Linked DNA regions of Homo sapiens: region 2 is linked to region 1. Evidence: fine-mapped expression QTL. A gene starts in region 1. The other region holds a variant in brackets. All regions are shown on one strand. Distances are between the middles of the regions. Region 1 holds the start of CD80 (CD80 molecule). Region 2 overlaps POPDC2 (popeye domain cAMP effector 2).

Region 1 (5,338 bases):
TCCACAGAGATCATCCTGTTCAGGGGTAAAGCAAAGGGCCAGGCTTCCCCTACGGTGTCGCAACAGCCTCTGCACCAACCTCTGAGTGACAAAGCTGCATCTCCCTCTCGTCATCTCTTCCTGCTGGGTCCTCTACAGTCTGTGATTGTGTTTTCATTTCATTTATAATGTCTTTCATTGTACAAATATTTTTAATTTTTATGAATTCAAATCTGTGTATCTTTTCTTTTTTCGTGGCTTCCAAGTTTTGTGTCTTGCTCACCCTAGAATTATAAAAATATACTTTCATAAATTTATCCTTTCAATTTTTCACATAAAAATTTTTAAAAGAATTTTTATGTGAATTATTTTTAAAAGAATTTCTTTTACTTTTATTACAGTAAAGCCAAGGATGGATTTACAAAAAAATAAGTGGCACTAAAGAATTTACACTGAGGAGCAGTAATTCCTGCTTTATTCTTCTCCAACCCTGGGTCTGCTCCTCAGAACAAACTCATTTAAAGTTTTTTTGTTTTGTTTTGTTTTGTTTTTGAAACAGAATCTTGCTCTGTCACCCAGGCTGGAGTGCAATGGCACAATCTTAGCTCACTGCAACCTCCGCCTCTGAAGTTCAAGCAAGTCTCATGTCTCAGCCTTCCCAGTAGCTGGGATTACAGGTATGCACCACTATGCCCAGTTTTTTGGTTTTTTTTTTTTTTTTGGAGAGCTGGGGTTTCATCACGTTGGCCAGCTGGCCTCGAACTCCTGGCCTCAAGTGATCCGCCCACCTCAGCCTCTCAAAGTGCTGGGATTACAGGCATGAGCCACTGTGCCCAGCCTCCTTTTAAATCTTTTACTTGGTTTTGTTTTGTTTTGTTTTGTTTTCCAGTAATATAGGTATTCGGGTTCGGCTTCCTTTGCCCGTCTTCATCCATCTCACCTCCAGTGTCCAGAAATTTACCTTAGAAATCTGTGGTCCACAGGTCATGCTCCTAGACACATTGTAGGAGGAAGAGGAATTAAACACATCCCATTAGTACATAATCTTGGAAGAGAAGCCTTCTGAATTTTACAATCAGGATTGGGGAAACTCTGTAAAGTACCTTCCTGGTGTTCCTTTCTTCCAGCCTCTTTGATTAAGTCACATCAAAGCGCTAATGGCAAAGTTGTTTAATGTGTGTTTCTCCAAGGCAGGTTAGGATTTCACTGGGATTCTTAAAATTTGAGGGTGTCTGTGATCGTCAAAATTTGTATTCATGTAGTCCCTCATGAAATTTCTAAAACTCGGCTGGGTGCAGTGGCTCATGCCTGTAATCCCAGCACTTTGGGAGGCCGAGGAGGGTGGATCACAAGGTCAGGAGTTTGAGACCAGCCTGGCCAATATGGTGAAACCCCATCTCTACTAAAAATTTAAAAATTAGCCTGGCATGGTGGCACACGCCTGTAGTCCCAGCTACTCAGGAGGCTGAGGCAGAAGAATTGCTTGAACCCAGGAGGCGGAGGTTGCAGTGAGCCAAGATTGCACCACTGCACTCCAGCCTGGGCGGCAGAGAAAGACTTCATCTAAAAAAAAAAAAAGAAAATAAATTTCTAAAACTCTGTATTTCTTTGCTCTTTTAAGTTGACATCTATAACTTTCTATTACTTTAAATACCTGGAAAAAAAATCACTTCCAGTGCATTGTAATAATGTATCAAGTAGAAGTGGCTAAAATCAGTGAAAACATTTCTTTGATCTGAATAAATGTTCAAGAAAATAGAAAACATGAACTTACCTCCAATCTATGTTCCCTTTACTTGAAAATGTAATGTTGATCTACTAGAGGTAAGGCAGGAATTGTCACATCCATATTCCTTGCAACTATTCAAAATATGCATCTGAGACCAGAACAAGACACAGGTGAAGAAGGGTGCTCACTAGGCCCCTTCTGCCAATACAGAAGGAGACAGTGCAGTGGAGTCCTTTCATAGCAAGTTCTGCCTTCATGATTTCCAAAGCTTCAGTATTCCAAATCTCAGGTGAATAGGGTGGTATCCACTAAGCTCTGCCACAAACTTGTTGCTGAGATGAAGGAAGCCGCCGCTGTAGTCAGTATTTCTCACCCACACGGTTTGCTCTCTTTCTGGCTGGTGTGGGAAGGATGGCGTCTTTTTTTTTTTTTTTTTTTTGAGATGGAGTCTTGCTCTGTTACCCAAGCTGGATTGTAGTGTTGTGATCTCGGCTCACTGCAACCCATGCAAGGTGCTGTCAGGTTCCACCTGTGCAAACAAGTACACTGGTCCAGCATGGGTCAGCTGCTCACTCACAGGGGCTCCAGAATCCTACAAAGGGACACACAGGGGTGGGTGGCAACCTAGTTGGAAATGGGAGTGATGGGCATGACTAAAGTCTTCCTCATCCCACCAGAGGCGCACTCAACTGTGGCTAGGGTGACCAGAATTCACTGTCCAGCGTGGCTGGCAGGAGCCCACTCTCTGAAGATGGTGGGATTCAGAGGTGGGAGTAGAGTTGGGTGGTCCTGTGAGCTGAGCACTCTCCCAAAAGTGTCCCCTACATATGAGGTTGACAGCTTATTCCTGCAGGGACTCAGGAGTAACTCTGGGTGCTAAAACAAAACTTGAGACCAGCACAGAAACAGCCAGCCCATGAAGCTGGCCTCCCATCACACAGCAAGGCTAGCCAGATGCCCCTCACTCTTCTCGGGCACCATTCTTCTCCTCCCCTAGGCCGCCTGGTGCTCGTGGTGTTTCATGTTTGTTAGTCCATGCACGGTGGTGAGGGAGGCTGCTGTGTGATTTGCCCCAGCCACAGCCTCTACAAAAGCAACTAGAAGAAGACGGCAGCAGAGGGCGCTTCTTCAAACACCCTGTCCAACTCCTGGCACTGACAAGTACTGAGTGAACTCAAACCCTCTGTAAAGTAACAGAAGTTAGAAGGGGAAATGTCGCCTCTCTGAAGATTACCCAAAGAAAAAGTGATTTGTCATTGCTTTATAGACTGTAAGAAGAGAACATCTCAGAAGTGGAGTCTTACCCTGAAATCAAAGGATTTAAAGAAAAAGTGGAATTTTTCTTCAGCAAGTAAGTACATTTACTATTATCTTACTATGGGATAGCTTGGTAGAACTAGTTACCAGCAACCTCACTGCTTTTTAAACAAACAATACCTCTGCTACCACCTCCTGGATCCAGGCTTGCCCTCAAAGGAACCCTTAGGGTCTCATTCCCACAGGAGGCTGTGGCTTCCCGACATATTTGGAGCATCATAGTGAGAATTGTGGCCCATTATTTTAAAATATCCTAGATCCTAGCAAATATTGTTTTTGTGGGCCGTATTTGAATTTCTCAAGCCAGTAAAATTCTAGTGAAAGTGGGAAAATCGCTTGAGCTCGGGAGGTTGAGACTGTGGTGAGCTATGGTCACGCCACTGCACTCTAGCCTGTGTGACAGAGCAAGATTCTATCTTAAGAAAAACAAATTCTGGTGAATAAGTCTCTTTTAACTAATCCTGTCTAAAATGGATGATGGCTAATAAAACAATATGGCGTGGCTGGAACTCTAGCTCTAGGGTGGTCTCCAAAGAGGACACTCAAGCATTCTCTGAGCAGCACGGGGCTGTGTCCTGGTAGCAGCCTGAAGGGGTGACAGTGGAGCACAGTGTTTATTTTCATTTCTCAATTTTGACATATTTACTGGAAAAATTAATCCCTAGCCACCTCACATGACAGTACATAATTTTTTTTTTTTTTTTTTTTGAGATGGAGTCTCACTCTGTCGCCTAGGCTGGAGTGCAGTGTTGCAATCATCTTGGCTCACTGCAGCCTCCACCTCCTGGATTCAAGCAATTCTCGTGCCTCAGCCTCCCAAGTGGCTGGGATTACAGGCACCCACCACCACACCTGGCTAATTTTTGTATTTTTGGTAGAAATGGGGTTTTGCCATGTTGGCCAGGCTGGTCTGGAACTCCTGGCCTCAAGTAATCCGCCCACCTCAGCCTCCCAAAGTGCTGGGATTACAGGCGTGAGCCACCACGCCTGGCCCTGGAGTACATAATTTTGATAAGTAACGTCTGCAGTGTCTTTTTTTCCCTCCCTTTTTATGGATAGACTTTTCTGGTTATTGAGATCTCATACCCCTTTATGATATATTATTTGAGTAGAGGGTTTAAAGAATTGAGATACTTGTTTTCTTATGTTAATATGTCAAGAAAGAAGTTGTTTCATAACTTAGGTCCTGCCTTGGACAAAATACACCCTTACTGTCTGCTCTATGTTTCTTGGTATGTTCAGAAGAGGATTTGAACTTTTGCAGGTTGGCTAACAGATATGGAGGGTCCTTAGAGCTCTCCTGTTTCTAACCAAATCTTCACCCCACCTATTAAGTAGAAAGCCTTTTCATGGAAGGGCTGTGGTTGGTTCTTGGAACTGGTCCCCTCACAGAATTTCCATTCGCTTTTCCTCAGGGTCACGCCCTGCTTTAGAGGTTGCTTAGGTTAAGCTCTCCAATTAATTTTAGCAGGCAACTCGAGAGTTTTGCAACTCAAAGTAGGCACACCTTCCTTCCTGAATGACTTTTATTTGTTCCTTTTTCAGGCTGTGAAACTAAATCCACAACCTTTGGAGACCCAGGAACACCCTCCAATCTCTGTGTGTTTTGTAAACATCACTGGAGGGTCTTCTACGTGAGCAATTGGATTGTCATCAGCCCTGCCTGTTTTGCACCTGGGAAGTGCCCTGGTCTTACTTGGGTCCAAATTGTTGGCTTTCACTTTTGACCCTAAGCATCTGAAGCCATGGGCCACACACGGAGGCAGGGAACATCACCATCCAAGTGTCCATACCTCAATTTCTTTCAGCTCTTGGTGCTGGCTGGTCTTTCTCACTTCTGTTCAGGTAAGCAACTTTCAGGAACTTAACTGAGTCAACTGCTACAGGGTTAAGAGAAAGGACATGGGGTTCTCTGAGCTGCTCCCTTCTATTATCCTATAAGCTGGAAGGAACCTTCAGGGTGTTTTCAGAAGATTTTAAAGATTAGAAGACTGTGGTCCAAAGAGGTTAAAGGACCTGCCTATCATCACACAGCAAGTTAGCAACCAAGTTAACTCAAGAACCCAGGCCTTCAAGGAAGCGTGGAAGGGACAGTGTTATTTTAACAAAACCATACAGCCGATTCATAATGGTCTCTTCCATGAATATTAGATGCTCATTTACATTTTGTGATGTGCCGATACTGGCCTCGGAGTCTAGTCCCAAACTATGTTTTCATGATACAGCTCAGCGAAAGTGTCCTGCTTCTAAAATTGAACAATGGTGATCTTCTTTCCAATCTGAAGGCGGGAGAGTAGTTGAGGACAATTCCTC
Region 2 (5,379 bases), 88 kb before region 1:
ATTTGAATGGAGATGCTGCATAGGCAACTGGATATTTAAGTCTGAAATTCAGGAATGAGATCTGGGCCTGAGACATAAATTTGGGAGTTGGTTGTATGCAGATGATATTTAAAGCCATTGGATAGGATGAGCTCACCAAGTGAGTGAGTGTGGATGGAAGAGGGAATGGTTCAAGAGCGGAGCCCTGGGATACTTTAGTGGTGAGGAGTTGGAGAGGAAAGGAGGAAGCAGCAAAGGAGCTTGAAAAGGAACAATCATGAGATTGGGCAAGGAGTGTATGGCATCCTGGGAACCAAGTGAAGAAGATATATCAAAGAGGAAGGGGAAATTGATGGATGCCATGAAAACTGACCATCAGACTCAGCAGCTTAGAGGTCATTGGTGACCTTAACAGGAACAGTCTTTGTGGACTGCTAGGGACAAAGTCTTATTGGTTTAAGAGAGTGAGAAGAGAGGAATTGGAGACAGTTAAGTATAAACAGGTTTTTTTTTCTTCATGAGTTTTGCTAAAAAGGGAAGCAAATTAGTGGAGTGATAGCTAGCCAGGGAAGTGAATTCGAGAAAAAGAATTTTTATTTGTAAAATTTTGTTTTATTTTAAGATGGAAGAAGTACAGCATATTTCTAAGAAGGTTCACAGTCTTTGTGTTTGGCTTTAAGACATTATTTACATTCGGCGTAGTTCTTGCTCAAACACATGTGCTTCATATTTGGTACTCTGATTTCTTGTTTGGGAATTGTTCATAAGTACATCTAAGGTACAGGCCATGGCAGATGTGACAACTACTTGCTGAACTATTAGTAATGGACAGATTGTATTATTTTCAGAATTCTTTCTCATGAGGCAAGAGAGATTAAGTAATTTATCTGACATCATACAACTGATAGAGGTAAAGCTGAAACATGAAACCACTTCTGGCCTCGATAACGTAGTTTAGGTCCTGATTGCAGTGCTAGCAATTAGTGGAGAAAAGTTGAGAGGAGGAAATGAATAAAGGACGTGGGGGAGGGGTATAGCAGAAAGGAAAGAAGAGAAGAGGAGGGTAATGGGAGATCCAGTAGGCAATACAGGAATGAAAAGGATTATATATAATCTCTAATAAAGAATGTTTGGAAAGCTACCCTACTTTAAATTTGACAATTCATATAAAGTGCTTAACACAACGCCTGGCACCTCTTGACAAATATTAGCTGCTAACATCATTATCATCATCATTTCCACTGTCTCCATCCACAAAAATATATCATGAACTCTGCCAGCCCAAAGTATTAGGGTCAATTAGATTATTAAAAATTGTGTGATTCTGCACCCTTTTCCTGCACTGTCCTAAGCATGTTTCCATTTTAACCCCAGCTTTACCACTTATCATTATTTTAACAAGGATTTATCAAACACCTGCTGCATGCTAGGCACACGTTATTGCTTATTTCCCATGCAAGCGTAATTTAGCTTTGCATCATGGGCACATAGTGAGTACTCAGAAATTCCTAGATGAATAAACAAATGGAGAATGGGGTGCCCTTTGATTTTCTACCCTTTAGAGTTTGTCTTCCGCTATGCCCTTTTTCTGATTTCAGTCATCAGATCCTTTTGGTTACTTGAAATGGCCAAGTTACGAGCAATTTCGTAACTTGCTCGTATCCCAACCTGAATCCCAGGCTTGGGATCCTGATGTAGCTTGGCATACCTCATCAGAAGCTTTTTCTCAAACTCAACTTTCCAACTCTTTTTATGTCCCTACCCCAATATCTTACCCTTCCTCATTCTTAAAATGAATAGTTGTCAGCATTTCAACCACTCTTCAGAGCACAAGAAGGCCCCTTCTTTCTCTATCTTAAAATCATAAGACTCAGAACTTTCTGCAGTCATTAGTGGCATTAGCCACGGAACCACAGAATTACAGTTGAGGAAAGTGGATGTGGAAACTGAGGCTTCAGGAGGTGATGGGTGAGTGAGTGAATGGCTGATCCCAGGGCTCCTGACACAGGACCCCCCCATATCAGTGCACACAAGTGAAAGTCATCCACTAGACCTCCTCCAGGCAAGGCCATAGAGGGGTACTCCCACACAGCTTCTTCAGTAAAAGTACAGCTGTTTGCCAAGTGACTGAATGATCTCTGTGCTCAGCATGGACAAATTTTCTAGTTTAAACTTTTATTGTCTGCTTCTGACCCCTCTCAGGTCACTCTGACTGCTGAGACCTCATGTAGCTACATTTCCTGGCCCCGGAAAAGTCTCCATCTTCTTCTGACCAAAGAGCGATACATCTCCTGCCTCTTCTCGGCTCTGCTGGGATATGACATCTCAGAGAAGCTCTACACTCTCAATGACAAGCTCTTTGCTAAGTTTGGGCTGCGCTTTGACATCCGCCTTCCCAGCCTCTACCATGTCCTGGGTCCCACTGCTGCAGATGCTGGACCAGAGTCCGAGAAGGGTGATGAGGAAGTCTGTGAGCCAGCTGTGTCCCCTCCTCAGGCCACACCCACCTCTCTCCAGCAAACACCCCCTTGTTCTACCCCTCCAGCTACCACCAACTTTCCTGCACCTCCTACCCGGGCCAGGTTGTCCAGGCCAGACAGTGGCATACTGGGTGAGGACTCCACCAGTCTGGTGCTGGAGGATTTTGAGGAGGTGTCAGGATCAGAATCGTTTATGGATTATAGGAGTGATGGGGAGTACATGAGGTGAAGGGAGAACTAACATGGGCACAGCCACCGGCTCAGGATCCTATGTAAGTACTCAGAAGGCAGCCGCTGCACATTCCTGTCAATGGCTGGCCTTAACTCAGCTTGTTAGGGCAAAAAAAATCATTC[G/A]TGGAACATTTCCTCTTAGAGGACTCACAGAAAGTGGCATTAACCCAACTTTGAAGATAGCAACTCACTCCGGGTGCATGCAAGGCATGAAGGGATTTTAAAAACTCATTCGTTATTAACTTGATTGCATTTTAGAAAGTGGGCTGGTTGATACGTTGAGCAGGAAGGTAGATTGCTGTTTTTTTGCAAGTTTATTCTAATAGCTGAGGCCACAGCTGGGGCTTAAGGGGCTTTTATTTGTGGCATGCATTTTAAAAGAAAAAGAATGTGGCAGGGTTCTAATTCTGATTGCTTGTCTTTCCTGATACAGAGCCCGTCCTGGAAAGCAGTTGTTATTTAGCCTAGACTGGGCAGGCATCTCTGTTAAAACTGCATATTTTAAAGAGGATTGTGATTATGAGCTAATAGCTCGGGGAGGAAAATGTCCTCATCTTGCTTTCCTCTCACCCAGTGGAGAATGTGTTTGTTGATCACACAGACAGAGGACTAGATACTGCTATGATTAAATGTTACTATGATCAGATAGGTATATGGCAGCCTGGCTTTCCCCAGTCACCCACACCTGTGGGAGGTAGGATGTGCATAAATCCTGGAGGGCCTAACAGTGCGTGCAGGATTTCCCTCACAGAATTTCCCTCCCAGAGAGTCTACAAGAAAGGCTGTGCCCAGTGGTTCTGGGAAATTGCTCTCATGTTTCCCTGGCTGCCCTCATAATACTGTGATGTTTTTCTCTGTAACTCCACCCAACCATGATGTAGGCCTGAATTTCCTGAGGAAAATCCCATTGTTCCCAATTTGGAAGGCGCCTCCCATGGTTCTTCAGAAAGCACCAATAAATTACCTGAGAAACTAGCCCAGTGAGGAAGGCCTCCAGAGTACATGAAATGAATGAGTGAATGTTTGTCTATTTTGAAAAACAGGTTATATAAATGATGAAAGAGGCCATAGAGATGACTGATGAAAGGTTAGAGATTTAGTTTTGTAGATATGGAATTTACAATCTCCTGTGTTACCAGCATCCTTAGAACCATAGTTCAGCTCATTCTGAGGTAATTCCAAGGATCAATCTAACACCCCAGATCACTTTGTTGAGTTCCCCGAAGTGTGCATTGACAACTCTGATCACTCCTTTCCCTCTGTGCAGCTGTTCGCCTTCCTACTCGTTCATCCTGCATCCACGCATGCTCCTTATGTCCTATGGATCCCTCTTGGTCCAACTTGCCCATCCACCTATACACTCTCTCTTCGACTCACAGCAGCTCTCTGTTTTCTCATGTTGTTCTTCCTGGTTTTCTTCTCTTTTCTTGGTTCTATTTTTCTCTTCTTTCTTCTCCAATTTCTTCTCAGTCCTTGATTGCCTCAGTTTGATGTTCTGTTCTTTTTTCCTTTTCTTTCTTGAGACAGGGTCTCACTCTGTCACTCAGGATGGAGTGCAGTGGCATGATGTCGGCTCACTGCAATCTCTACCTCCAAAAGCTCAAGCGATCCTCCCATCCCAGCCTCCCAAGTAACAGGGATTACAGGCACATGTCGCTGTGCCTGGATAATGTTTAATTTTTAAATTTTTTTGTAGAGACAAACTCTCCCCATGTTGCCCAGGTTGTTCTCGAACTCCTGGGCTCAAATAATCCTCCTGCCTTGGTCTCCCGAAGTGTTAGGATTACAGGCATGAGCCACCATGCCTGGCCAGTTTGCTGCTCTTAAGTGTCCATTTTCTATGTCTTCTCAGTTCATTTCTCCCTCTTCACTTGTCTCTTGTTTTCTTCCATTTTATTGTTCATATATTTATCTCTCCTATTACCTCCTTTTTTCTTTTTCCCACCTTTTTTGCCTTGCTGTATCTATTCTTCCTCCTAAACACCCTGTACCCCCATCTTATTAGTTTTTAATCCTAACTCTTCCAAAGATCAGTACTTTTCCCTCTGCCTATAAAGAAAACCATTCAAGTGAAGGTGTAAAATCCCCAGCTTTAGGAATGTTTTCCAAACATCAGGAGGCAGGCAGCATGGTAAATGAGAAAGAGGCCAGGACTGGGAGTCCAAAGTCCTGGCTTCTATGTCTGGCTTTGCTACTAATCAAATATGTGACTTTTTGCAAACCATACCTCACTAAACCTTACTTTCTTCATTTGAGCGTGTTGGACCAGCTGTCCCCAGGAACCCCCTTGGATTGATCTGAGAAGGCAAGGATAAGTTTTTCAAAGGAAGAAAAGAGGAGTAGTCAGTCCGCAGTACAGTAGACACAAGCCCCAGGACATCTGAGTGTCTTTCAGCAAGAACTCTCTGTGATATTTCACTACAATTTCTCTGGCACCTTGGGACTCTCCTCAGCCCTTGTGGTGGTGGGTCTTGTTTAACTAGCAGTTCCCTCCATTCTATGCCTGTGAAGAATCTATCACCTACCATGTGATTACAGTGCAGATTTTTTTTTCCTTTTCCTTTTCTTTTTCTTTCTTTTTTTTTTTTTTTTTGTTTGAGACGGAGTCTCGCTTTGTCACCCAGGCTGCAGCGCAGTGGCGCGATCTCGGCTCACTGCAAGCTCCGCCTCCCGGGTTCACCGCCATTCT

Evidence for each region.
Region 2: its variant is fine-mapped to the expression of CD80 in thyroid (GTEx, PIP 0.97).

Annotation. Positions count from the first base shown.
Region 1 is chr3:119,557,161-119,562,498 of GRCh38, reverse strand. It overlaps CD80 (CD80 molecule), which reads left to right and starts at 2,885. Exons shown (of 7, transcript NM_005191.4): 1 at 2,885-3,059; 2 at 4,571-4,870. The coding sequence starts at 4,771. LOC107986118 (a long non-coding RNA gene) reads right to left here and starts at 2,069. Exons shown (of 2, transcript XR_001740861.2): 1 at 1,754-2,069; 2 at 173-263. RefSeq lists enhancers at 1-130, 2,612-2,661, 3,432-3,491, 3,762-3,921, 4,283-4,577 and a silencer at 4,283-4,577.
Region 2 is chr3:119,645,471-119,650,849 of GRCh38, reverse strand. It overlaps POPDC2 (popeye domain cAMP effector 2), which reads left to right. Exons shown (of 4, transcript NM_001369919.2): 3 at 2,182-2,731. The coding sequence ends at 2,688. Among named protein-coding and RNA genes, the nearest start is that of POPDC2, 12 kb to the left of the region's middle. The variant G/A (reference allele first, on the strand shown) is at 2,814.